Linked DNA regions of Homo sapiens: all the other regions are linked to region 3. Evidence: fine-mapped expression QTL. A gene starts in region 3. Each other region holds a variant in brackets. All regions are shown on one strand. Distances are from middle to middle.

Region 1 (8,181 bases), 40 kb before region 3:
ACGCTCTGCTTCCCTATTGAAATCAGCCAAGGGGAGTCACTAGTAGATGGTCAGAGAATGGAGAAATAGAAAGGTCAGAATACATCCTCCATTTCCAGCCTGCTTCAGCAACACAATTCTGGCAATGTAATGTCTCTATAACAATGTCTCTATAACTATGGCTCCATCCTCTGACCTCAGCCTTGCAAGTAGCTGGGACCACGGGCGTGTGCCACCATACCTGGCTAATTTTTTTTTTTTTTGTGGAGATGGGTTTTTGCCATGTTTCCCAGGCTGGTCTTGAACTCCTGAGCTCAAGCGATCCACCCGTCTCGGCCTCCCAAAGTGCTGGGATTACAGGCATGAGTCACCACTCCCGGCCAAATATGTTAATTTTGAAAAGGTAAAACATAAGACTCTAGGAACAAAGCTAACAAAATATGTACTAGTCTATTGCGGGGGCAGGAGGGATCTAGAAAATTAATAGAAGACCAAAGTAAATTAACAGACATTATGTGTTAAGAATGTTTGTCCAATTTATGTGTACATTGAATGCAATTGCAGGTAAAATCTCGACAGGGCTTTTCATGGACTATGATAAGAGATTCAAAAATGTATATAAAACAGTCAATAACCAGGTGACATAGCAAGCCCTGAAAGAAAGAAAAGAAAAGAGAGGAATAGAGGAAAGAAAGAAACGAAGGAAGGAAGGAAAGAAAGAAAAGACGGCAAAATATCTAAATATCAAGATTTTTTTTTTGAATGTGGAAAAAAACATTTCTCATGTAAGACAAAAGAGCACAAACTATAAATAAATTTGACCACATTAAATCTGTAAACTTGTATTTCTGAGTTAGGTGGAAGACATATGCTGTTTAACACATTACTTCCTCTACCTCTGATATGTTTCAATTAATTCATAGAAAAAAGTGAGCCACCTGTATGCGGAGACTCATAGTGCGGGTGCAGCATCTTAACAGAGAACAAATAAAGCATGTTAACTTCAAACACCTACAAAGGAACATAGCCAAGGCAAGATTAGAAAGACACCAGATTTCTCCCCAAAACTCCTCGAATACATCTCTCATTACATTTATAATGCAATATATAATAATAAATCCTTCATTACATTTACATCATTAAAAATGTAAAAGCTGGCCAGGTGCAGCCATTTTACATTTTACATTAAAAATGTAAAAGCTGCCGGGCATGGTGGCTCATGCCTGTAATCCCAGCACTTTGGGAGGCAGAGGCTGGCAGATCACTTGAGGTTAGGGGTTCGAGACCAGCCTGGTCAACATGGCGAAACCCTGTCTACTAAAAATACAAAAATTAGTGGGCGTGGTGGCACATGCCTGTAGTCCCAGCTACTTGGGAGGCTGAGGCAGGAAAATTGCTTGGACCCAGAGGGCAAAGGTTGCAGTGAGCCAAGACTGGCCACTGCATTCCAGCCTGAGTGACAGAGCAAGACTCCATTTAAAAAATAAAATAAAATAAAAGTAAAAGTTGGCCAGGTGCAGTGGCTCATGCCTGTAATACCAGCATTTTGGGAGGCCAAGGTGGAAAGATGACTTGAGACCAAGAGTTTGATACCAGCCTGGGCAACACGGTGAAACCCTGTCTCTACAAAAAATTTTAAAATAAAATATTGGCCGAGCATGGTGGCGTATGCCAGCTACTTGGGAGGCTGAGGTGGAAGGATTGCTTAAGCCCAGGAGTTCAAGGCTGCAATGAGCTATGATCACACCATTGCACTCCAGCCTGGGCAAAAGCGCGAGATCCTGTCTCTATTTGTTGTTTTAAAAAATTTCTTCAAGTTATAATATTACAGTAGGTAACGGTGAAGAACAAGTAGGGGATATGGAAAATATAATTGGAGAAATCTTCCGGAATATATAGAGCAGTAATAAGAGAAGATATAAAAGATAAGTTAAACAAAAAAGAATTATCATTATTATTATTATTATTATTGGCTTCTGCTAACAGTGGCTTAGGTAATGCAGCTCAGGTCTCCAACTCCCAGGCTGGATGAAATATGAAACAGCATCCACTCGAAGGCTTGAGAGAGGCCCGAAGAATTATGGGACAAACCTGGAAGAAGAAAAAAACATACAATGTATATGAAACAGTAAATAACTGGGTAACATAGCAAGCCCTGAAAGAAAGAAAATAGGAATTAAACAAGAAAATAGGAAGAGGAATTCCAGAAGGAATATATTTTTTAATGGAGGAGAATAAGTTCAGACATGCAAGAAATTGAACCACCCAGCAATCATCTATTCTGAATTAATATATGCAACTGGGAAAGTGGTTCTTATGAATTGGGTCATTCCTGTCATGCCCAACTAACCCAGAGTCAAGAAGCCCGGGGGGCAGCTCTAAGCCCACACAGCATTGCTCCGAGAATTGAACCCTTCGCATGCCTGGCTGCTGAACTTCTGCTGTAACCTGAAACCAGTTTTACCTGATAACTTCTGAAACAACGTGCTGCACCTCTAAGACTAGTTTTACCCACTGCTGTCACTCACCATCAGAACTTGCCAGCTCCCCAAAACTTAACAAGTGCCAATGATCAAAGAGTAATACATAGCATTTCTCCTTTTTATAAAATCTCCAACCTCAACTTTATTCTTTGGACATCCCAAAGACCACCTGGTCTGTGTGTATATGCCCCAAATGGCAATTCTCATATCCCAAATAAAATGTTAAATTTAGAGATTTTTCTCTACAGATTTTATTTGACTTTATCATACACAGCGTCATTAGTAAAATCCAAAGCTGACTCACCTCGGGAAGAATTACTGGTTCTTGGAACAGCGGTGTGAGGTGCCCACAGTGGAGCCTTTTGAACCCCGCTGCATCTGCAAGTGGCCTCTTCTCCCCCTCCATTTTGTTCGAGTTCCATTTTATTCGTGATTTGGTTGGGAGGGTTTGTCCCACTCCTGTTGGAAAGATCTCCTCTTGGGGAAAGTTATTTTCCTCCTGTTGACCTCAGCTCCAAGGTTTGGATGAGGGGATTTTGTCCTTCATTTGGAGAAGGCCTATCGTCCTTCCTGGGAGGTACACACTTTATTTTCCATCTGCACTTGCATTCAGTTGGCCTCTGCATATTCAGTGCTACATTTAATTGGCTTTGTGTATTTGGCATTAAACTAGAGCACCCATAAAATGTAACTGTTAAAAACAAAGAAATTAGATGATTGTAAATAAAAATAAATGTTTATAAATAAACTTTTCATGTAAATGTTAAAATTATGTTATGTAAAATTAAATAATGCACATTAAATATCTGGATTGTAGCTAAATAAGATTTCTTAAAACTGAAACAAATTGC[T/A]AAATAAACAAAACGTCATTTTTGGCTTCTTAAATTTTATAAAAAGTAAATATATTTAGATCTATTAATTAAAATATGAATTTAGGAAAAAATAATTTTGCATGAGAATTTTATGTGGTAAATCTTTGTCCTATGACAAAATAATTTGTTGTTTAAAAATAAAATTATGGGACTAAGACTGGAAGTTTTAAGAAAGTGATAAAAGGTCTAAACAAGTCAAAGAGGATTTATAAAAGATGGGCCTAATGAAGTAAGTTACATGTGTAATCAGATTGTCTGGGATTGGAAATAAATTATGTATTTTTCTAAAAGTTCCACATTGGTGTCCACGGCACCGTGACACAGGACCAGAGTCTATACCTCTATATTTCAAATGAAAGTTTTCTGAAAGTATTGATCTGCTGTGAATTAAATTGCAAGAGGTTTTGATTTTTAATTTTAAAAATCTGTTTCTTTAACAGCCATCTGCTTTTTGAGATTCATTTCCCTAGTTTTAGATTTAAAATGCTGTCCTCTTCATTTAACATAATTTTTTCTTGAGCTAGAGTTTTGTTTTAGAGATTTTTCAAATGTGTATCTCAGAAGTCTAACTTTTGCTGTATTTGCTGCACATAATTTGCAGTCATATATCATTGCCTCCAACTTACTCTCCCCTTGAAAAGTCCTAGGATTATAACTCTTTCCTTCAACTTTCTTGCACACTCCTGTAACTTTATCCCCCTCTGTTCTAACTCTGCTGCCTGACACTGAAATGTTTACCCTGAAGACCTAGAAAAGCAATGTTTTGTTTAGCATAACTTGATTCTGTACTCCTGGCTTTTCTTAATATGTCTGAATTGTTCCATGTAACCAAGAAACTTCCCATGCTGTTACTAAAAGCCATATATTCCTCTGCTTAAGCTGCTAGTTTTCTTGTTTACATTCCTTTATGATGTAGTGTACACTCATAATCTTGAACACATTTTTCCTCTGTCTAATTAAATTCAAGCACCCTTTTTTTTTTATCAGGTTTGACCTCCAGGTTATCTAAATGAACTTTCTGTAACGAGAAATCATCACACTGTGCAAGGTTCTTTGCCTTTTTGGTAGCTGACCTAAGAAACAAAGATTTTATGCTTTACCAAGATAATTTCCTGTGTTGCCTTTTGTAGGTTTTTGATTACTTAGGAAAAGTGAGCTTGGAAGGGTTAATATTTTTACAATCGTGTAACTTTCCATATTGCTTTTGAAGTCTTTCAGTTGTCACTCTGGTTAAATGAATGACTATTATTTTATAGTGACCTCTGATTCTGTTTTGATCAAGTGTTTTGGGCCTTTTTTTTTTTTTCCTTTTTGAGACAGGGTCCCACTTTGTCACCCAGGCCAGAGTGCGGTGGCACAATCATGGCTCAATGTAGCCTCAAATTCCTGGGCTCAGGTGACCTTCCCACCTCGGCCTCCCTAGTAGCTGGGACCACAGATATGTACCACCACACCAGGCTAATTTTTTGGTTATTTGTAGAGACAGGGTTTCATTATGTTGCCCAAGCTGGTCTCAAACTCCCAGGCTCAAGTGATCTGCCCGCCTTTGCCTCCAAAAATGCTGGGATTGCAGGCGTGAGCCACTATGCATGACCTGTTTTGCACCTTTTGACATCTTTGACAAATGTCCCTAATATCAACTCCTAACTTAAGTTTTTTTCACCTTGAATTAACTCTGAGATTTTCCAGTCAGACCTGTGGAAAGCTTTGAAAGATATATTTCTCATCTTGTAGAGATATTAAATGATTAGGCTTATTTGGTAAATTGTGTGAAAAACATTGTCAAATAATACATGATACTAGATCTTTTAGTTACATTTACAGGTATGCTGTTTATATGTTTCTAAAATTACATAGTCATAGAAATCTAATATGCTATCAGTCATAATTCTGGTTATCTTGAAATACTATACGTAATAGAAATAACTAAATTTCCTTGTTGATTATGTTTATCAGATTTTTAACCATGACTACTCTAAGTTTTTGTCATCCACAGTTATTCTTTAAAATTCTTCTCGGCTGGGTGTGGTGGCTCACACCTGTAATCCCAGCACTTTGGGAGGCCAAGGTGGGTGGATCACCCAAGGTCAGGAGTTCAAGACCAACCTGGCCAACATGACAAAACCCCATCTCTACTAAAAATAGAAAAATTAGCCAGGTGTAGTGGCACACACCTGCAATCCCAGCTACTCAAGAGGCTAAGGCTGGAGAATCGCTTGAACCCAGGAGGCAAAGGTTGCAGTGAACTGATATCATGCCACCGCACTCTAGCCTGGGAGACAGAGCAAGATTCTGTCTCAAAAAAAAAATAAAAAAAGAAAATTCTTCTCAAAAAATTTTATAATCAGATTTGTGGAAAAGACTCCAGCAAGTACTGTTAAATACAGGTTTCTGCCACACCTAAGATAAATAAAGATTTCCAGAATTTTAATAAAGAGGCGAAGAACTCATGAAACTAATGGAGATCAAGCAGAACAAAAGTTGACTACATGAGATTGAATAACTGATGAAGATAATGCTTTTATGAGTGTTATTTGAAACATTGTTCTCTACTGAAATGCTTTCTTTCACGGATTTAAGAAAATTTTCTCTCTTAAACTATCTATAATTTATAGCAATTTGGTGAAGTATTGATATGATTTGGCTGTGTCCCCACTCAAATTTCATCTTGAATTTTAGTTTCCATAATCCCCACATGTCATGGGAGGGACCCAGAGGAAGGTAATTGAATCAAGGGGGCAGTTACCCTCATGCTGTTCTCATGATAATGAGTTATCACAAGATCTGATGGTTTTATAAGGGGCTTTTCCCCCTCTTGGCTCTGCACTTCTCCTTCTTGCCGCAATGTAAAGAAAGGTGTGTTTGCTTCCCCTTCTGCCATGATTGTATTTTCTGAGGCCTCCCCAGCCATGCTGAACTGTGAGTCAATTAAACCTCTTTCTTTTATAAATTACCCAGTCTCAGGAATGTCTTTATTAGCAGCATGAAAATGGACTAATAGAGTAAATTGGTTCTGGGTAGTGGGGCAATACTATAAAGATACCCAAAAATGTGGAAATGACTTTGAAACTGGGTAACAGGCAGAGGCTGGAACAGTTTTGAGGGCTCAGAAGAAGAAAAGAAGATATGGGAAAGTTTGGAACTTCCTAGAGACCTGATGGATGGCTTTGACCAAAATGCTGATAGTGATACGGACAATAAAGTCCAGACTAAGGTGGTCTCTAATGGAGATGAGGAACTTTTTGGGAACTGAAATAAAGGTGACTCTTGCTATGTTTGAGCTAAGAGACTGGCAGCATTTTGCCCCTGCCATAGAGATCTGTGGAACTTTGAACTTGAGAGAGATGATTTAGGGTGTCTGGCAGAAGAAATTCCTAAGCAGTAAAGCACACAAAAGGAAGCAGAGCAAAAAAGTTTGGAAAATTTGCAGCCTGATGATGTGCTGGAAAAGAAAAAACAATTTTCTGGGAGGAAATTCAAGCCAGCTGCAGAAATTTGCATAAGTAATGAGGAGTTGAATGTTAATCACCAAGACAATGTGGAAAATGCTTCCATGGCATGTCAGAGACTTCACAGCAGTCCCTCTCATCACAGGCCTCGAGGCCTAGGAGGCAAAAATGGTTTCATGGGCTGGGCCCAGGGCCCCTCTGCTCTGTGCAGCCTAGGGACTTGGTGCCCTAAGTCCCAACTGCTTCAGTGCCAGCTGTGGCTAAAAGGGGACAATGTACAGCTTGGGCCATTGCTTCAGAGGATGTAAGCCCCAAGCCTGGGTGGCTTACATATGGTGTTGGGCCTGTGGGTACACAAAAGTCAAGAACTGAGGTTTGGGAACCTCCACCTAGATTTCAGAGGATGTATGGAAACACCTGAATGTCCAGGCAGAAGTTTGCTGCAGGAGTGGAGCCCTAATAGAGAACCTCTGCTAGAGCAGTGCAGAAGGGAAATGTGGGATTGGAGCCCCCACACAGAGTCCGCACTGGGGCACTGCCTAATGGAGCTGTGAGAAGAGGGCCACTCTCCTCCATACCCCAGAATAGTAGATCCACCAGCAGCTTGCACCATGCACCTGGAAAAGCCGCAGACACTCAACATCAGGTCATGAAAGCAGCTAGGAGGGGGCTGTGCAAAGCCACCAAGGCAGAGCTGCCCAAGGCCATGGGAGCCTACCTCTTGCATCAGCAGGGTCTGGATGTGAGACATGGAATCAAAGGAGATCATTTTGGGACTTTAAGGTTTAATGACTGCCCAATTGGATTTCGGACTTGCGTGGGGCCTGTAGCCCCTTTGTTTTGGCCAGTTTCTCTCTTTGGAATGGGTGTATCTACCTAATGCCTATACCCTGATTGTGTCTAGGAAGTAACTAAATTGCTTTGATTTTACAAGCTCATAGGTAGAAGGGACATGCCTTGTCTTAGTTGAGACTTTGGACTTGGACTTTTGGGTGAATGCTGGAATTAGCTAAGACTTTGGGGGACTGTTGGGAAGGCATGATTGTGCTTTGAAATGTGAGGACATGAGATTTGGGAGGGGCAAGGGGCAGAATGATATGGTTTGGCTATGTCCCCACCCAAATCTCATCTTGTAGTTCCCATAATTCCCATGTGTAGTGGGAGGGAGCTGGTGAGAGGTAATTGAATCATGAGGGCTGTTACCCTCATGCTGTTCTTGTGAAAGTGAGTTCTCATGAGCTCTGATGGTTTTTATAAGAGGCTTTCCCCCAACCTTTGCTCTGCATTTCTCCATCCTGCTAGAAGGGCATGTTTGCTTCCCCTTCTGCCATGATTGTAAGTTTCCTGAGGCCTTCCCAGCAATGTGGAACTGTGAGTCAATAAAACCCTTTCCTTTAT
Region 2 (8,181 bases), 61 kb after region 3:
TAATGAAGACGATGGGAGTGGGGACATGCAGCCGAAACATAGTTTATTCTCATTCCCCCATGGGGTGAATCTATCTGGCCAGCACACTTTATGTCACACACAAAGCTTTGGTGGGTTTGGGTGAGCCCCTGGGCTGGTCCCCTATCCATCTCCCTCCCCTGTGCTGTGCCTGCAGAATTTCACCCGGCCTGCAGCTCCTGTCAGCGTGAGAGGGGCACACAGACACCTGCACCTTTGACCACCGAAAGGCTACCTTGGGCCATGTCTTTATCCTGGCTCTGACGCCACGTCGTTGGCTTTCTACTGCAAACTCAGGTTTTCTGAGACGTGGTCTGAACCTCTCCCCTGGGTGGAACTGCAGTGCATCGGCCCAGGGGACCTGCGCTCACGGGCGCACGAGCTTGAGAAAGAAGTGTGGCCAGCCTCGTGCTCGCCTGGCCTCGTGCAGCATCTGTGTGTGGTGTGCACTTACGCGTGATGAAAGCAGCCCAGCCGTGCCGTGAGAGGAAGAGTCGGGGAGGCGAATGGGCTGGAGAAACTGTTTCCGCCTGGCTCCGTGTTGCTGGAAACGGGCAGAGGCGGCGGAGATGAATCCCGTGTGCGAGCGCAGAGCTCTCTTCCCGGCTCGTGCTTGCTCCCCTCGTGGCTGGGGGCTGTGGTCCTTTCAAAGCTGTTCCCTGCGGATCCCTTCCCAGGGGCACTTTGCCCTCGGAAGCCCCGCCTCCCTTCTCGCAGATTGTGGCAGGATTAGGGGCAGCATCTTGTATGACTGTCCTAATTGTGTGCAGTTCTTTTTGAGCTTTGAATACGAAGTTTGGTCTGAAAAGAGGCTTTCTCAAGCCTGGGCAGCTCTTTCAGGAACACATTCCCAGTGGGAATTTTGGGTGGGATTCAGGAGGCACCGATCTGCCAGTGAGGGATTTCTAGGAACACAAGGTTAGTCAGGACGTGGATCCCCACAGTGGACACGACTGCCCCACCCCGCCGAGGTCGGAGGTGGCCTTGAGGAGCTGGGCCGTCGCTTGCTGTCTGAGCTTCCATCCACGAATGGTGTGGGAGTTCGGGATCTTCCCAGACATTCTTTCTTCACCTTTGGGAAGATGGAGGGGGACGGTGGTGGCATCCCTTGCAGTCTGTGCTGCGCTGACACTTTGGAGAAGTGTCTCCCATCTGTAGAGCAGAATCCTCTTTGGAGAAATGCAGCTGTCCTTGACCTTGAGGCAGAAGGCGTCTCCATCCTGGGCATCTGTCTGCCCCTCCCCATCTGGATGCCTCATCTTGCTGTGTCATTAATGGTAATCTTATTCTAACAGCCTCCCATGCATCAACTCTATCAGTCCCCGAATATTATCTTTAAATTTTGTCAGATCGCTTTGTGGGTTTCTGGCTTTTTCTCTTTTCTATCAAGCTATTCAAAGCAAAAACTGAAAGTGAATTTAGAAAAAAAGGAAAAATGTTAAGTAAGATATTAGACAGCCCTGGGGGAGGTTTTCACTGTGTTGCTTCCAGCTTGAAGCCATGTCTGATTTTGGAATTCTCGTTTTGAAGTCAGGACTTGGAGGCATGTTGAGATGTAATTTTCAGCATATGTGTCCAGATAGGCTCTTTTTATTCTTGTGGTTTTCAAAGAGCTGTTTAAAGCAGCACTCCTCAAAAGCATGGACTGTGGACTCAGACAGCCTGGGAAACAGAGTAGGCACGAGAAGGTTCTAGAAATATGTGGCTGGCTTTGCTGATATCCAAGGATATGTGATCATTGCAAAGCGATTCACTCCTGTTGTCTTACCCATCAGAATGCAGTAGACTAGAAACCACAAGAAATGAACAGATGTAAACAGAAACACTGGCCCCTCATCCAGGTGGCCTAAGAAACACCCACAGACTCTAAAGCCAGGTCTGGGGACTGCTCCTCCCTCCCTCTTTGGGCTGTCCCATCACACACAGGCACTTTCCCTCGGGAGGGCCTTCCCTAGAGGTGCCTCTGACCCCAGGGCGGGGCTCCCTCTTTCCAGAGCTAGCCATTCATCCGCACCTCCATCCATCCAGGGCGGGGCTCCTTCTTTCCAGAGCCAGCCATTCATCCGCACCTCCATCCAGTCAGTGGAAATGCACCTCTTGGCTGGAAGCACTGGGAGCATGTCTCCACCGCCACCTTGTTCTCCCACGGCAGGTGCCACTGAGCTGGGACAGACCCTGTGGTCTGTGTCCAGTGGGCCTAGGGACTCGCGGTCACTGGAGGGCGTGAGAGCCACATGTCCCGCTCTCCGTGTGGTCCCTGGGTGGCAGTGCCCTCAGAAAACACTGATTCTGCTGGACCAGGGCAGGGGCACAGCATGGTGGGCACCGCCTCAGTGACCATCTCTTCCTCCTCAGCCATCGACTACAGTGACAGCGCCATGCTCCAAGCTCAGCAGCTGCTCCTGGGGCTGGGCTCTTTCCTGGAGGACGCACGTGCCTACATGAAGGGGCAGCTGGCCTGCGGCTCCGTCAGGGAAGCGATGCTGTGGGAGAGGTAAGAGGCCCGCCTAGCACCCGGCGTGGCACCCCTCCTGTGGCCTGCTGGGTGCTGCTGGTGGGCTCTTGAAGGGGAAGAGGGGCCCCCAGGAGACAGGGCGCTGGACAGGAGGTTTGGGGTCAGGGACTGCCCAGAGAGGCCCCAGGAGACAGGGTGCTGGGCAGGAGGTGCAGGTGTGGGGTCAGGGGCTCCCCAGAGGCCACAGGGGACTGGGAGCTGGACAGGAGGTGTGGGGTCAGGGGCTCCCCAGAGGCCACAGGACACTGGGTGCTGGACAGGAGGTGTGGGGTCAGGGGCTCCCGAGACATCCCAGGGAGACGGCGCTGGCAGGAAGTGTGCCTGGGGCCCTCGGGCTCTGAGCCCCCTGCTCAGAGTGGCTTTGGGCTCGGGTTCCCTGTGCGAGGAGCGGAGCTGCTCATCCCTCCCAGTCCTGACTGTGAGGAGCCAAAATCTATAAAACACACAGGCCTGGGCCCACAGCATCGCCTCCACTCCCCACCCACGGGTGTCCTGGGCAGCGCTGCACATTCATCCCGGCATGCAGAGTCTTCCGGATGGTCTTGGTGATAACCCACCCCTGCCACTTCAGCAGGGTAGGCAGCCAGTGGCCACGGGAGGCTGAGATCCGGGAGCCCCGGGCTGGGCCTCCCCAGCCTCTCTTTGTGAGTGGTCAGCCGTGCCGTCTCTCCCCCACCGAGTCTTCCTTGCCACTCCCCTCAATATCTATTGATTTTTAAAACCATCATGAAAATGCCCACGTGTGTCTTGTATTTTAAGTGTCACAGGTGACCTCTGCTCTGGGACTTTTTCTTGGGGTAACATGACAGTTTGCAGTTGATGTTACATAATTTTCTGCTACTCAGGAACTCAAGTCTTTGGGAATATGACCTAGAGAAAGTCCCCAGATTAGAGCCCCCAGCGTCTCTCCCTGGGGAAGGACTGGTGTGGGGGCCGCCTGGGGAGAGTGGAGCTCCCTCTGCTGTGACTGTTCTCTCCTCTTCCCTCAGGCTCTCCAGCACCAAGAGGGCCGTGAAGGCGGCCTTGGCAGATGATTTTGACACACCCAGGGTGGTTGATGCCATCCTGGGCCTTGCACACCACGGGAATGGACAGCTCAGGGCGTCCCTGAAGGTAGCTCAACGAACAGGTGGCCTTGCGGTCCTGCTGCCAGGGGCATGGGTCGGGTCCTCTGGTGGGTTTTTCTCATGTCGGCTGGGTGGCATCTCTGCTGATTTCGCCTCCCGCAGCTTCTGTGGAGGAACTCATGGAGCCCGAGTCTGCCGCTGACACACGGGATGGCACCCAGCCTGGGGCTTGACCCTCCCGGGCCTCAGGGCCACCTGGGGAACAAGCTCTCAGGAGCCCCTGAGGCTGAGAAATTCTGTGTGCTTGATCCTCAGGGGACACATCTCATGTCCCCACTGCATTCATGGCCCTTTCACAGAGAGAGCTTTTGTGGGGAACTTTTTAAGGAAAGACCCATTTACCCCAAGGCACTGTTATGCAATCTGCACCCCAGTGTGATGACCACACCAAGCACCCAGGGGTCTGAGCCTGGACTCGTGGGTCACTGCAAGTGTTTGGCAGGTGGGACAAAGACCGTGAAGGCGGCGGCAGGCTTTGGTTCCTGCACGTCTGAGGGTCCCCTGCCAGGCCCTGGGAGGCGCTGCGTCAGGAGCCCCGTGACCTTTGATGACCCGGGAAGCCGAGGCTGTTTGTGCCTCTCCCACCTCTGGAAACACCTG[G/T]GGGTTCTGGCCACATGCTCTGTTAGTTGAGCATCTCTGTGGAGGTCTCCATCCCTGGCTGCGTGCAGTGTTGGGTTTCAGAGCACCAGCAGGTGGGGCAGGGTGCCATGTGCCCTTGCCGGGTGCCTTCGGTCCAAATACTGCAGACGCGCAGGGCTCGCCTCTGAGGGGGGCGGGCATTTGAGTCACAGCCGGCTGCAGGAACAGGCTGCCCCGCACTGAAGGCAGCCAGGCCGGGCTGGGGCAGGTCCCGCAGCCAGGCTGCTCCTGCACGGGAGCTCCTCCTCCTCAGCCCGTCCGCGGCCTCCTGCCTTCACCGCAGCTGCTGCCGGCACTACCAGGCTGGCCCAGCTCTAGGGCAACAGGGGCCTCTTGTGGCAAGGGGCGGGACAAGTAAAGAGGCTGGCTTTTGTCCTGCGCTTTTCCTTCCCAAGCTTTGCAATTCTGGGGCACCTGCAAACTAAGGCTAGTGTCACCCAAGGGTCTCTGTGCTTGGTAACTGATGTGAGCCACGTACCAGGATTTCCCCGTTTTCTGAGAAACCCAGCCCAGTGCCCACTCAGCCTCCACCTACCATGCGCCACCTGCCATACTCCACGGTCATGCTTCACCCGCGAAGCCTGATGAGCTAGTCACCACCCACATGACTGATGGGTAAACTGAGGCACAAGAGATTCCTCATGCACCTATAGTTGTATGGTCTGCAGTGAGGTAGCCGATGCCAGAGCTGTGTCCTCCCTCCATAGAAGCCAGGAGAAAGGCCAGACTGAAGTGACCTGCTGAAGCCTTTGTCTTTTGACATTGAATTCCGTTTGCCCACTGCCATCAAGACTGCTTTTAAGGAGCTTCTGCGACATGATCTCTTACAGGAACCTGAAGGGCCGAGAAGTCCTGCTGTGTTTGGTGCCATCATCTCTTACTTTGAACAGTTTTTTGAAACTGTTGGAATTTCTCTGGCAAATCAACAGGTAGGTCCTATTATTTTAAATGCTTAATTCTGGAATTTTCTCCATGTTGGGACAATAACCTTTACCCTTTTAACTTGGAATAGAGCATTATGATGCCACACTAATGTATTTACCTGTTTAAAAACATGTTACTTTCCTGGAAAAATAAACACACTCAGAGCCAATACTTATTAATTGGAATTGCACAATTCTACTTCTGCAGTTGGCAAACTCTCGTGCGCAGAACCAGAGATGAGTCCATCTCAGCAACAGAATGTCGCCAGCTCTGCACACACGTTTATGTTCAAAGACTCTCAGAATGTGCAGAAGTCACAGGCACAGTAAGAGAACATTTTTTCCTGACCCATTTGAGGGCAAGTTGGCGACCTGAGCCCCCTTGCCTGGCACATGTTTTGTACGGACAGGACGGGCTCCCCGACAGGCACGAGTCACCTGCACCTTCCCAGCGAGGCTCACCCTGGCTGTGCAGTGAAGGTGGACGCTGCCAGGCTTCTCCACATTCCTTCTCTTCCGTTGTAACTCAAGAGCATTTTTGCAAAGAGACTTGGATCCTATGAAAATGTCCTCTTCCTTATCAGGCTCACCTGAAACTCGTTTATTCTATCAATACAGATTTGAGGTTTCCTGCCTTATTCTTAAAGTCCCCACCATCACTTTGTATGTGGCTGACAGAGGCCCCTTGGGGCTGGCGCTGTGTCCCTGAACATCCCTGTCATTCTTTGGACACCCTTGTAGAATTCTCAGCACAAGGCGCTCTGGCTCTTTTGGGGTGTGGCTCGGCTGCTGCTGCCTGGACGGGGGCTGCCACTCTAGACCAGCTGCCCAGCACCCCGAGGGTCCCGCCGCTTGGGACTGGGGCCCAAGCAGGTGTGCTGAAGGCCTGGCTCTGGGCCAAACATGTCTCGCTGGCTCTCAACAGAGAACTATAGTGTCTTTTCCAAGTTTGGCTCATTTGTATACCTGTTGATCACCTGGTAGACTTAGTTCCCCTTTCCAGCAGTCCGGCGTCTGTTGCCAATCACATAAAAGTCGACTGGTGTGAGATGACCCAAGTTTTTGCAATGTACATGTTCATTTTTAGGGGTGGCTTTCCGGAGTCTGTTTTGAGTAAGAAAAGTGGGATCTGGCCAAGCTCTGCCTAGCCCTTGTCAAAGATATCTCATTCACCTTCCTCTGGCCGCAAGGCCCAATGTCTGGGCCCACTCTGGGCTCATATTTCTGTAATAACAAAAACTGTCTTTTATCATGGAAGCAATAACTGAGGGGTGTGTGAGGTTTAAGTAGTTTGACACCAAGGTCAAATGTTGTGTCTGTTTCTTATTTTACACACATGGATTTAACAAATAGGTACAGCTGCCCCTTCCACACCGCCCCAGGATCTGTTCTCAGTGGGAGGACAGCGCGAGGCCTTCTGCGCAAATCCCGTCCTCAGCACCTGAGGCTGTGAATCTCAGACCATTTGCCGAAACACACGTGTGCAAGCGCTCAGTCGCTGCCCCCCAGCCTCATCCTCAGGTTGCTCCTGATACCTCGGCCACAATTGCGTGAGGTCTGGAAGCCAGGGAGCGTTTGTGTTCAGGGCGGGGCGGCATGCAGCCCCCAGCCCTTTCTTCCAACTCCCGAGTGAGGATCACTCAGCCTTGCTTGGACGACAGATGCTCAGAGTTGAGTGGAGCCTTGCCCAGAGCCCAGCGCTCGCGGGCTGTACCCATCCCTGCCAGACCCAGAAAGAGGCCCAGCTGCAGGGAATCAGGGAAGCCCAGGGCTGGGTGGGTGTCGGCCCAGAGCCCAACCACGGGGTGGGGAGGGGGCATCCACAATCCACAGTCTCCGGGGGACGTAACCGCGCCCTGCTGGCTTCAGTACGTTTCAGGAGACGGCAGCGAGGCTACCTTGCATGGTGTGGTGGACGAGCTGGTGCGGTTCCGGCAGAAGGTCCGGCAGTTTGCGCTGGCCATGCCCGAGGCCACGGGGGACGCCCGGCGGCAGCAGCTCCTAGAAAGGCAGCCCCTGCTGGAAGCATGCGACACCCTGCGCCGGGGCCTGACTGCCCACGGCATCAACATCAAGGTGAGTGCCGCACCAAGGTCAGGGACATCACCCCAGGAGCCGGGTAGGTCAACAGGACGTGGGGCCATCAGAGGCCCAGACATCCCCCGTGACCATGCTTTTTTTTTGAGACGGAGTTTCACTCTTGTCACCCAGGCTGGAGTGCAATGGCGTGATCTCGGCTCACCACAACCTCTGCCTCTGCCTCCCAGGTTCAAGCGATTCTCCTGCCTCAGCCTCCTGAGTAGCTAGGATTACAGGCATGCACTCCCATGCTCGGCTGATTTTTTATTTTTAGTAGAGACAGGTTTTCTCCACGTGGGTCAGGCTGGTCTCAAACTCCCGACCTCAGGTGATCCTCCCACCTCAGCCTCCCAAAGTGCCAGGATTACAGGCGTGAGCCACTGCGCCCTGCCCATGCTTCTGAGTAGAGAAACCCACCCCCATAAAAAATGAGGTGGGAGGGCCGTGAGGGAGGGGCCAAGTTGGCTGCAGGGGACGCTGAGCACGGGGACGTGGGTCCTGCTCAGCCCCCGCCACCTCCTGCAGGTGCCTTGAAGCTCCTGGCCTTCTGCTGGAGGTAGTGGGGCCCTTTCTAAGCGCCTGGCAAGCTTTTTAGGACAGGCCGGTGAGGGAACAGGCACCCTGAACCTGATTACGCCTGTCAGCCCCCTGTGCCACATGACGTGGTGTCTGCTCAGAGTTGGACCTCACTCTTCTTCTCCAGGACAGAAGCAGTACAACATCCACGTGGGAACTGCTGGATCAAAGGACAAAAGACCAAAAATCAGCGGGCTGAGGATGGAGCACAGCCATGAACCTGCTCACGACAAGACGCACCCATGCTTCTCAGGGTCAAGGCTTTATGTTAAAGCTTCCTGTCGGGGCTGCTAGGTCAGCATTA
Region 3 (8,181 bases):
TGAGAGTCAGATATAAGAGATGAACATATAATTCTTTTTCTTTTTTTGAGACGGAGTCTTGCTCTTGTCACCCAGACTGGAGTGCAGTGGCGTGATCTCAGCTCACTGCAACCTCCGCCTCCCGGGTTCAAGCGATTCTCCTGCCTCAGCCTCCTGAGTAGCTGGGATTACGGGTGCCGGACGCCATGCCCAACTAATTTTTGTATTTTTAGTAGAGACGGAGTTTTGTCATGTTGGCCCAGGCTGGTCTCGAACTCCTGACCTCAGGTGATCCGCCTGTCTTGGCCTCCCAAAGTGCTGGGATTACAGGCGTGAACCACCGCGCCTGGCCAAGCATAGAATTGTTTAAGTTTCAAAGTGCTTAAAAAATAAATGCAAACTCATTCATCTTAAACTTGAAAACCCCTAAACCATATGCTACCGTAATCAACTCTACTTCTGATTTACAAGATTTTGCCTTGAAAGAAAATGTAATACTGAGAACTTGATTTTGTTATTGTTGTCATTAAGGACTGAGAAATGGCATTAGTGATATTTTGGAATCATTAACTTTAACACACTTCCTCGTTCTGACCTAGATTGGAGAGGGAGGTGACTTCAATTAAATGGATCCTCTTTTTATGTATATATGGTGTATTAGTCAGGGTTCTCTAGAGGGACAGAACTAATAGGATGGAGATATAGATATATATAATGTATATACATATATATGTTTATTAAGTACTAACTTACATAATCACAAGGTCCCACAATAGACTGTCCGCAAGCTGAGGAGCAAGGAGAGCCAGTCTGAGTCCCAAAACTGAAGAACTTGGAGTCTGATGTTCGAGGGCAGGAAGCACCCAGCACAGGAGAAAGATGTAGGCTGGGAGGTATAGTAATGAAGAGCATTAGCAGTCTATTTTACTTTACCTTAATATTCAACCTGCAGATATTCAATATGCAAAAAGATCACATTTCTAACCATCATTAGGTAATGAGCTATGTTTCTCCTTGTTTTGATGATCCGCAAAAGCCTTAAGAAAACAGAATTAGCTGCCGGGCACGGTGGCTCATGCCTGTAATCCCAGCACTTTCAGAGACCGAGGTGGGCGGATCACCTGGGGTCGGGAGTTCAAGACCAGCCTGACTAACATGGAGAAACCCCATCTGTACTAAAAATACAAAATTAGCTGGGCATGGTGGCACATGCCTGTAATCCCAGCTACTCAGGAGACAAGCAGGAGAATTGCTTGAACCCGGGAGACGTGAGAAAGAGGCAGGAGAATCGCTTGAACCCAGGAGATCACGCCATTGCACTCCAGCCTGGGCAACAAGAGTGAAACTCCATCTCAAAAAAAAAAAAAAGAAAAAAGAGAAAAGAGAATTGGCCAGGTGTGGTGGCTTAGGCCGGTATTCCCACCGCTTTGGGAGGCTGAGGTGGCTGGATCACTTGAGGTCAGGAGTTCCAGAGTCCCAGACCAGCCTGGCCAACATGATGAAACCCCATCTCTACTAAAAATACAAAAATTAGCTGAGCGTGGTGGCACGCACCTGTAATCCCAGCTACTCGGGAGGCTGAGGCAGAAGAATCACTTGAATCTGGGAGGTGGAGGTTGCAGTGAGCCGAGATCGTGCCACTGCACTCCAGCCTGGGTGATAGAGTGAGACTCTGTCTCAAAAATAAATACATAAAAATAAAAATAAAAATGCAAAAATTAGCTGGGCACGGTGGTGTGCACTTGTAATCTCAGCTACTGTGGAGGCTGAAGCAGGAGGATTGCTTGAACCAGGAGGCAGAGGCTGCAGTGAACCCAGATCAGGCCACTGCACTCCAGCCTGGGTGACAGAGCAAGACTGCCTCAAAAAAAAAAAAGAAAACATAATAGAATCACTGCCAGTGAGGGGCTAAAAACATTACATGAATTTTCTGAAGACAGAAGATACTATTGTTAATTTAAAAGTTGTGATGTTCTATGAACAATTCAAATATACCGCATGTCCAGATTCATGTGCAGATTTGATCTTCAGTGTTACTAAGCTGCTTTCAGAATCTCTGCTCCAGTTATTTCCTTGAATTCGTGTGTTCTCACAGATTGCAACTGAGCTTTTTGTTAATTTGCTTTATTTACTGGCACATCTAATATCTGAATCAGCTTTATCAGGTATTTTACTACCCAGATTTCTTCCCACCTGCACAATTAATCCCTTTCGTAAGGGATTAATTCATCAACATTCAACAAGCCCTTTTATTTCTTCTAAATTTTTTTTTTCCAGCCACAGCAAAACAAAACAAACAAAACCCAAGTCCTTTTCTGAATTTAGTGCAGGGCACAGTGAGAAGTTCAAAATAATGTACAATTTAAGATACTCAGGGAGATAAATATACACACAGCACTGGAAAGTTACAAAATAACATAAGGCAGGCAAGAAGTGATAATATTCAGGAGAATTTAGAGTAGTTAGGTAACATGAGTGGTTAGCATTGATGTAGGCTATAGGGTCTCCTAATTCTAACATTTTAACCTTATTAAATTAGACAATAGATTACATTAGACTACAGTTAGCTTGAAACAGAATTGCAGAGTTGGACTCCAGGATATTGAGAAACTACTCTAGGTACACACTTGTTTGTCTCTACTTAAACCTTTGCTTTTTAATAAAACACCAAAGCAAACTAAAAACAACAACAAAAAACCAGAGGAACGTCTCCTGTTTTGAGAACTGGAAAAGCAAAGGGGACTTTTTCTTTTTTTTGAGACATCGTATTGCAAGACACCAATAGAGGCACTTTTTTTTTTTTTCAGGCGGAGTCTCCCTCTGTTGCCCAGGCTGCAGTGCAGTGGTGTGACCTCAGCTCACTGTGAGCTCTGCCTCCTGGGTTCAAGCGATTCTCTTGTCTCAGCCTCCCCAGTAGCTGGGACTACAGATGCACGCCACCACGCCCGGCTAATTTGTGTATTTTTAGTAGAGACGGGGTTTCACCATATTGGTCAGGCTGGTCTCGAACTCCTGACCTCAGGTGATCCATCCGCCTCAGCCTCCCAAAGTGCTGGGATTACAGGTGTGAGCCACTGCGCCTGGCCCAATAGAGGCACGTTTGTCAAGCTATTGTGAGTAACTTTCAGAATGTTTTTGTTCTCAAGATACGGGATCATGGTGGGGGAGGCATGCTGTGTATTGGAGTGCAGACATGGTGTGTGTTGGGTTGCACACTGTGTATTGGGGTGCACACTGTATTGGGGTGTAGATGTGTGGGGGCGCACACTCTATTGAGGTGCACATTGCATTGGAATGCAGACAGTGTTTGCTGGGATGCACATGTGCTGTGTTGGGGTGCACACTGTACTGGGGTGCAGACATGGTGTGTGTTAGAGTGCACAGTGTATTAGGGGTGCACACTGTATTGGGGTGTACACTGTACTGGGGTGCAGACATGGTGTGTGCTGGGGTGCACACTGTATTGGAGTGCACACTGTATTGGGATGCTGATGTGGTGTGTGCTAGGGTGCATACTGTGTATTGGGGTGCAGACTGTATGCTGGGTTGCACACTGTGTATCGGGGTGCACTGTGTTGGGATGCTGATGGTGTGCTGCAGTGCACACTATTGGGGTGCAGATGTGTGTGCTGGGGTGCACACTGTATTGGGGTGCACACTGTATTGGGATGCTGATGTGTGTGCTGGGGTGCATACTGTGTATTGGGGTGCACACTTCTTGGGGTGCAGACTGTGTGTTGGGTTGCACATTGTGTATCGGGGTGCACTGTGTTGGGATGCTAACGGTGTGCTGCAGTGCACACTGTATTGGGGCGCAGATGTGTGTTTGGGGTGCACACTGTATTGGGGTGCACACTGTATTGGGGTGCTGACGTGTGTTCTGGGGTGGACACTGTGTATTAGCGTGCTGACGTGGGCTGTGCTGGGATGCACACGTGCTTCGCTAACAGGCCAGGGCCCGGCAACAGAAGCTTGCACTGTAAACGCTCCTCCCGCGCGGCGGACACAGCTCCAGGCTGGTACCGCGCGCACACGGACGCCTCGCAGGACCTGGGCTAATAAGGAGAGGAGATCGGCACGGTACCGCCTCTTCCCACGGCCTCCCGGCGCGGCACCGCCCTCCTCCCTCCACCCCGGGCCTTCCCCGCCCCAACCTCTTCGGGCCCTGGTTCTCCACCCTTGCCGCGGGCGACTCGAGCCAGGCCAAAGGGAGGCGCTACCTGAGGACTGCTTCCGGGAGTGGGCGTGGCCCCAAGGGCGTGGGCGGGGCGGGGCGGGGCCGTGCTGCTCTTGAGCGACCGGCAGCGTACCCGGCGTGGCTCCCGTCTCCGCCCAGTCGTAGGCGCTGGCCGCTGACATGTTGAGGACTACGCGCGGCCCAGGCCTGGGCCCCCCGCTGCTCCAGGCCGCGCTGGGCCTTGGGCGGGCTGGGTGGCACTGGCCTGCGGGCCGGGCGGCGAGCGGGGGGCGCGGGCGGGCCTGGCTGCAGCCCACGGGCCGGGAGACGGGTGTGCAGGTGTACAACAGCCTCACCGGGAGGAAGGAACCCCTAATCGTGGCGCACGCCGAAGCCGCCTCCTGGTGGGCCGCGCGGGACTGGGGCACGGGCGGGGGCCGATCGTGGCGGAGACTTCCCACGGCTGAACGGGATCTGGGCTCGGGGAGGGCGTTTAGGAAGCTGCATGGAGGGCGCCGTTCTAGAAGCTGGGGGTGCGCGGTGCTTTTGCAGGTTTGGGTGTGAATTGAGCAAGTATGAAAACCCCGGCTATTCATCCCCCAGAAGTGATTACTTTAAAAATTATATGATCATTATAACTCAGAATCGAATGTCCTTTCTTGCAAATATGTTCCACACGATGGATTTTAACTTTGTTTCCAGGTATAGCTGTGGACCAACTGTATATGATCATGCGCACCTTGGCCATGCTTGGTGAGTTTCCTGGATTTGAATTTTCATACTTCAAAGGACCATTTATTTTTGAAAGCCTTTTGCTGATTTCTTTTATCTCTTAAGTGGCAACTTAGGGATGCAGAATAATTCCTACATTCCAGGCATTGTGGGAAATGTTACAACCTCATTTGGTTCTTATAGGGATTCTGAGCACTTACACCCGTTTTACAGGTGAGGAAACTCAGGGAGACAATGGAGCACTGAAAAATGACCCGTTTTGGAACTAGATGTTTTTTGCTGGGTTTAGTGACATCAAGAGGCCTTTGCGGGGTCCCGGGGTCCTGCTGATCAGTCATTCCTGGGCCCCACCACTTCTTAGCTTCACAGCACTGAGCAGGTCACTTTATTGCTTTGAGTCCTGGTTTCTTCATCTTTGAGATGGGAATGATAACTTGGATCTTATAACAATTTTAGTAAATAATGCCCATAAAATGCTGCTTAACACTGTACCTCACATGTGAGATGTCACGGGGCTCAATAGTGATTGAGTAACTTTCCTAAGATGACACATTGAAGAGGTATTGGAACTGGGGTGAGGCTTGGTTTCTCTGACTGCGAAGTGGTTGCTCTCTTGACCTCTTTAACTGTAAGATGTACTGCCTCCTACATTTGCCAAAATTACCACTTTTCCTAATATTTTGTACATTTCCAAAATATAATGTACAAAAATGACATATTATAGATTTTTTAAAACTTAGTATTGTTCAGTCCTAGACTAAAAGTAAAAAGTTACATTTACTCTGTATACTTTTTTTTTTTCTTGAGACGGAGTCGCTCTGTCGCCCAGGCTGGAGTGCAGTGGTGCAATCTCGGCTCACTGCAACCTCTGCCTCCCAGGTCCAGTTGCCGCCTCCTGGCAGCAATTCTCCTGCCTCAGCCTCCGGAGTAGCTGGGATTACAGGCATGTACCACCACGCCCGGCTAATTTTTGTATTTTTAGTAGAGACGGAGTTTCACCATGTCAGCCAGGCTGGTCTCGAACTCCTGACCTCAAATGATCCACCTGCCTTGGCCTCCCAAAGTGTTGGGATTACAGGCATGAACCACCATGCCCGGCATACTCTGTATACTTTAAATATACATTTTTCCCCTTTACTTTGGGCTAACATACTTTTAATTATCAAAAGCATATTTCGACATCTTTCTTGAATTATAAAATATGTTGGGGAAATATTAAAAACAAAACCCCCACCCTGGAAAACCTTTCCACAAAGGTAGAAGAGAAAGAAAACAGTTCTGTTACTGAATAAGCCTTAAACCAGAAGGGGATGAGCTAAAATAACTGCAAAGACAGAAAGAAATCTCATCCTTCTATGGAGCTTTGGGGATACAGCCTGTCTCAGTCTATGAGTCTGCTGTAACAAAATATCCTAAAATGGATGACTTATAAACAACAGAAATTTCTTTCTTTCTGGGGCTAGGAAGTCCAAGATGAAGGCACCAGCAAATTTGGTGTCTGTTGAGGGTCTGCCTGCTGTGTCCTCACATGGTAGAAGGTAGAGGGAATTCTCTGAGGTCTCTTCTATGAGGGCATTAACCCCAGTCATGAGCTCTCTGCCTCCATGACTTTGTCACTCCCAGAGGCTCCACCTCCTAAAACCGTCACCTTGGGAGTTAGGGTTTCAACCATGAATTTGGAGGGAAGACAAACATTCAGACCATAGCATAACCCATTGCTTCAGGTGAGTTACAGTGTGGAGTCAGATGACAAGGTAGGCCCATCTCCTCCCAGGACACTGGGAAACGGGGCGTTATTTTCCTTGATTACATTTCAGAGGTGGGTCCCAGGTTTTGAAATTTTCTTGAGTTGTAAAACTGCCAAGAGGTTTATTTAGCCATTTAAAAGATTGACATGCATTTGAAGAGGACTGAGGAAGAAATCCTAAAAGTTGTTGGGGAGAGAATCTCTTCTCATTTCCAACTAGGAGAGTCAAGTCTTGCAGTTTAAATTTGTATAATATTTACCTTTATGACTACAGAAAAGAATACACATCTTAAGTGCGCAGCTGAATGCATGTTATAAGCTGTGTCCACACAGGGCCTTCCCAGGGGCTGGTGGGAGCTTGGGACTCTCCTGTTGACCACCTTCCTGTCAGCCTGGCCAACCCCTCCAGGCCTTTGCTGGGCTGGCCTGCCCCACCTCCCTCTCCCCATCTCAGCTCTCCTAGCATTGTACTCCTTCAGTGGTTATTTATGCAACCATCTGATGTCGTTAGCATGATGTAATTATTTCAGCTCCAGCAGGACAGGGATGCACACAGTGCCTGCTGCAGAAAGGTAGAATTTGAGCAATGGGTAGCACTCAGTTCACTGGAAAGAGACACCCTGAAAAATAGCCTCCACCATTTCCAGAAGAGGTCAGAGGGATGGAAACCCTGTTTGGGGAAAACAAATAGATCAGTTTGGTGCTAGGGGGGAGGAGCAGGGGAAGGGATGGGGCGTCAGTTGCAGCCAGACTGGGGAGGGTGCTGCGTGGTCTGGCCCAGAGAGTTTGGATTTCATGCCATGGTAGACGGAGTCACACTGGAGCGTTTTGAGGGAAGACTCTTAGCAAATGAATCATTTCAGCGATCACCCAGATGAGCACACTCACCCAGTGGATGGAGAAAATGGGGCAGAAAGAGCCGGGCTGACGGTAGCATGGTTCATGGTGGAGTCACAGAAGCAAGCTGAGGTCTCCTGATGCCATGTTCTTCAGACTTGGCTGCCCGGCACTTGCAAGGCGTGTGTGTGCGTGTTTGTGTATAGAGTGGCCCCTGTGGTCACAGCCTGCCTGCAGCGTCTCAGGGTCTCAAATTGCTCATGACCCTGCATTCCGCCAGCTCTGCCAAGCTGTGGAGCCTCTGCTGTCTCCAAGGGCAGTTCCGGGACTCAGCCTGGGCTCCTCTGGGCCAAGCAAGGGACTTGACTCTTGTTTTCATTTGCTTTAGGTTCCTGTAATTTTTTTCTTGTAAATCTCACATCTTTTAGACTCTTTCCCAACTTGAGGTGAATGAAGGAGCATGGTGATGAGAATGGTAATAATAGCTTGTGTTTTTAGAATTCATGCTGCACAGGCGGTAAGGCTGGACAGCAGTCCTGTTAGGTGGTGGGATTTTGCCAAATTTATAAGCAAGCCGACTGAGCTGTAAGAGGTTAATTATCTTGTTGAGTTTTGGAGATAGTTTTGTCCCTGGAATCAAGATTTGGTCTCAGCTGTGTTTGGAGAGGGAGGGGGTGTGTGGGAGGTTAAAGTGATACAATAACATGGC

What was found. PIP is the estimated chance that this variant, and not a neighbour inherited with it, causes the effect.
Region 1: its variant is fine-mapped to the expression of CARS2 in whole blood (TOPMed, PIP 0.98). The same link has a PIP of 0.9 or more in lung and prefrontal cortex.
Region 2: its variant is fine-mapped to the expression of CARS2 in whole blood (INTERVAL, PIP above 0.99).

The regions. Positions count from the first base shown.
Region 1 is chr13:110,742,683-110,750,863 of GRCh38, reverse strand. No RefSeq gene overlaps it. Among named protein-coding and RNA genes, the nearest start is that of ING1, 33 kb to the right of the region's middle. The variant T/A (reference allele first, on the strand shown) is at 3,314.
Region 2 is chr13:110,641,432-110,649,612 of GRCh38, reverse strand. It overlaps CARS2 (cysteinyl-tRNA synthetase 2, mitochondrial), which reads left to right. Exons shown (of 15, transcript NM_024537.4): 11 at 2,374-2,512; 12 at 3,523-3,646; 13 at 5,130-5,228; 14 at 7,092-7,298; 15 at 8,005-8,181. The coding sequence ends at 8,076. Among named protein-coding and RNA genes, the nearest start is that of NAXD-AS1, 29 kb to the right of the region's middle. RefSeq lists an enhancer at 26-525. The variant G/T (reference allele first, on the strand shown) is at 4,261.
Region 3 is chr13:110,702,249-110,710,429 of GRCh38, reverse strand. CARS2 (cysteinyl-tRNA synthetase 2, mitochondrial) reads left to right here and starts at 4,314. Exons shown (of 15, transcript NM_024537.4): 1 at 4,314-4,560; 2 at 4,859-4,909. The coding sequence starts at 4,337. RefSeq lists enhancers at 3,387-3,506, 3,517-3,896 and a silencer at 3,947-4,506.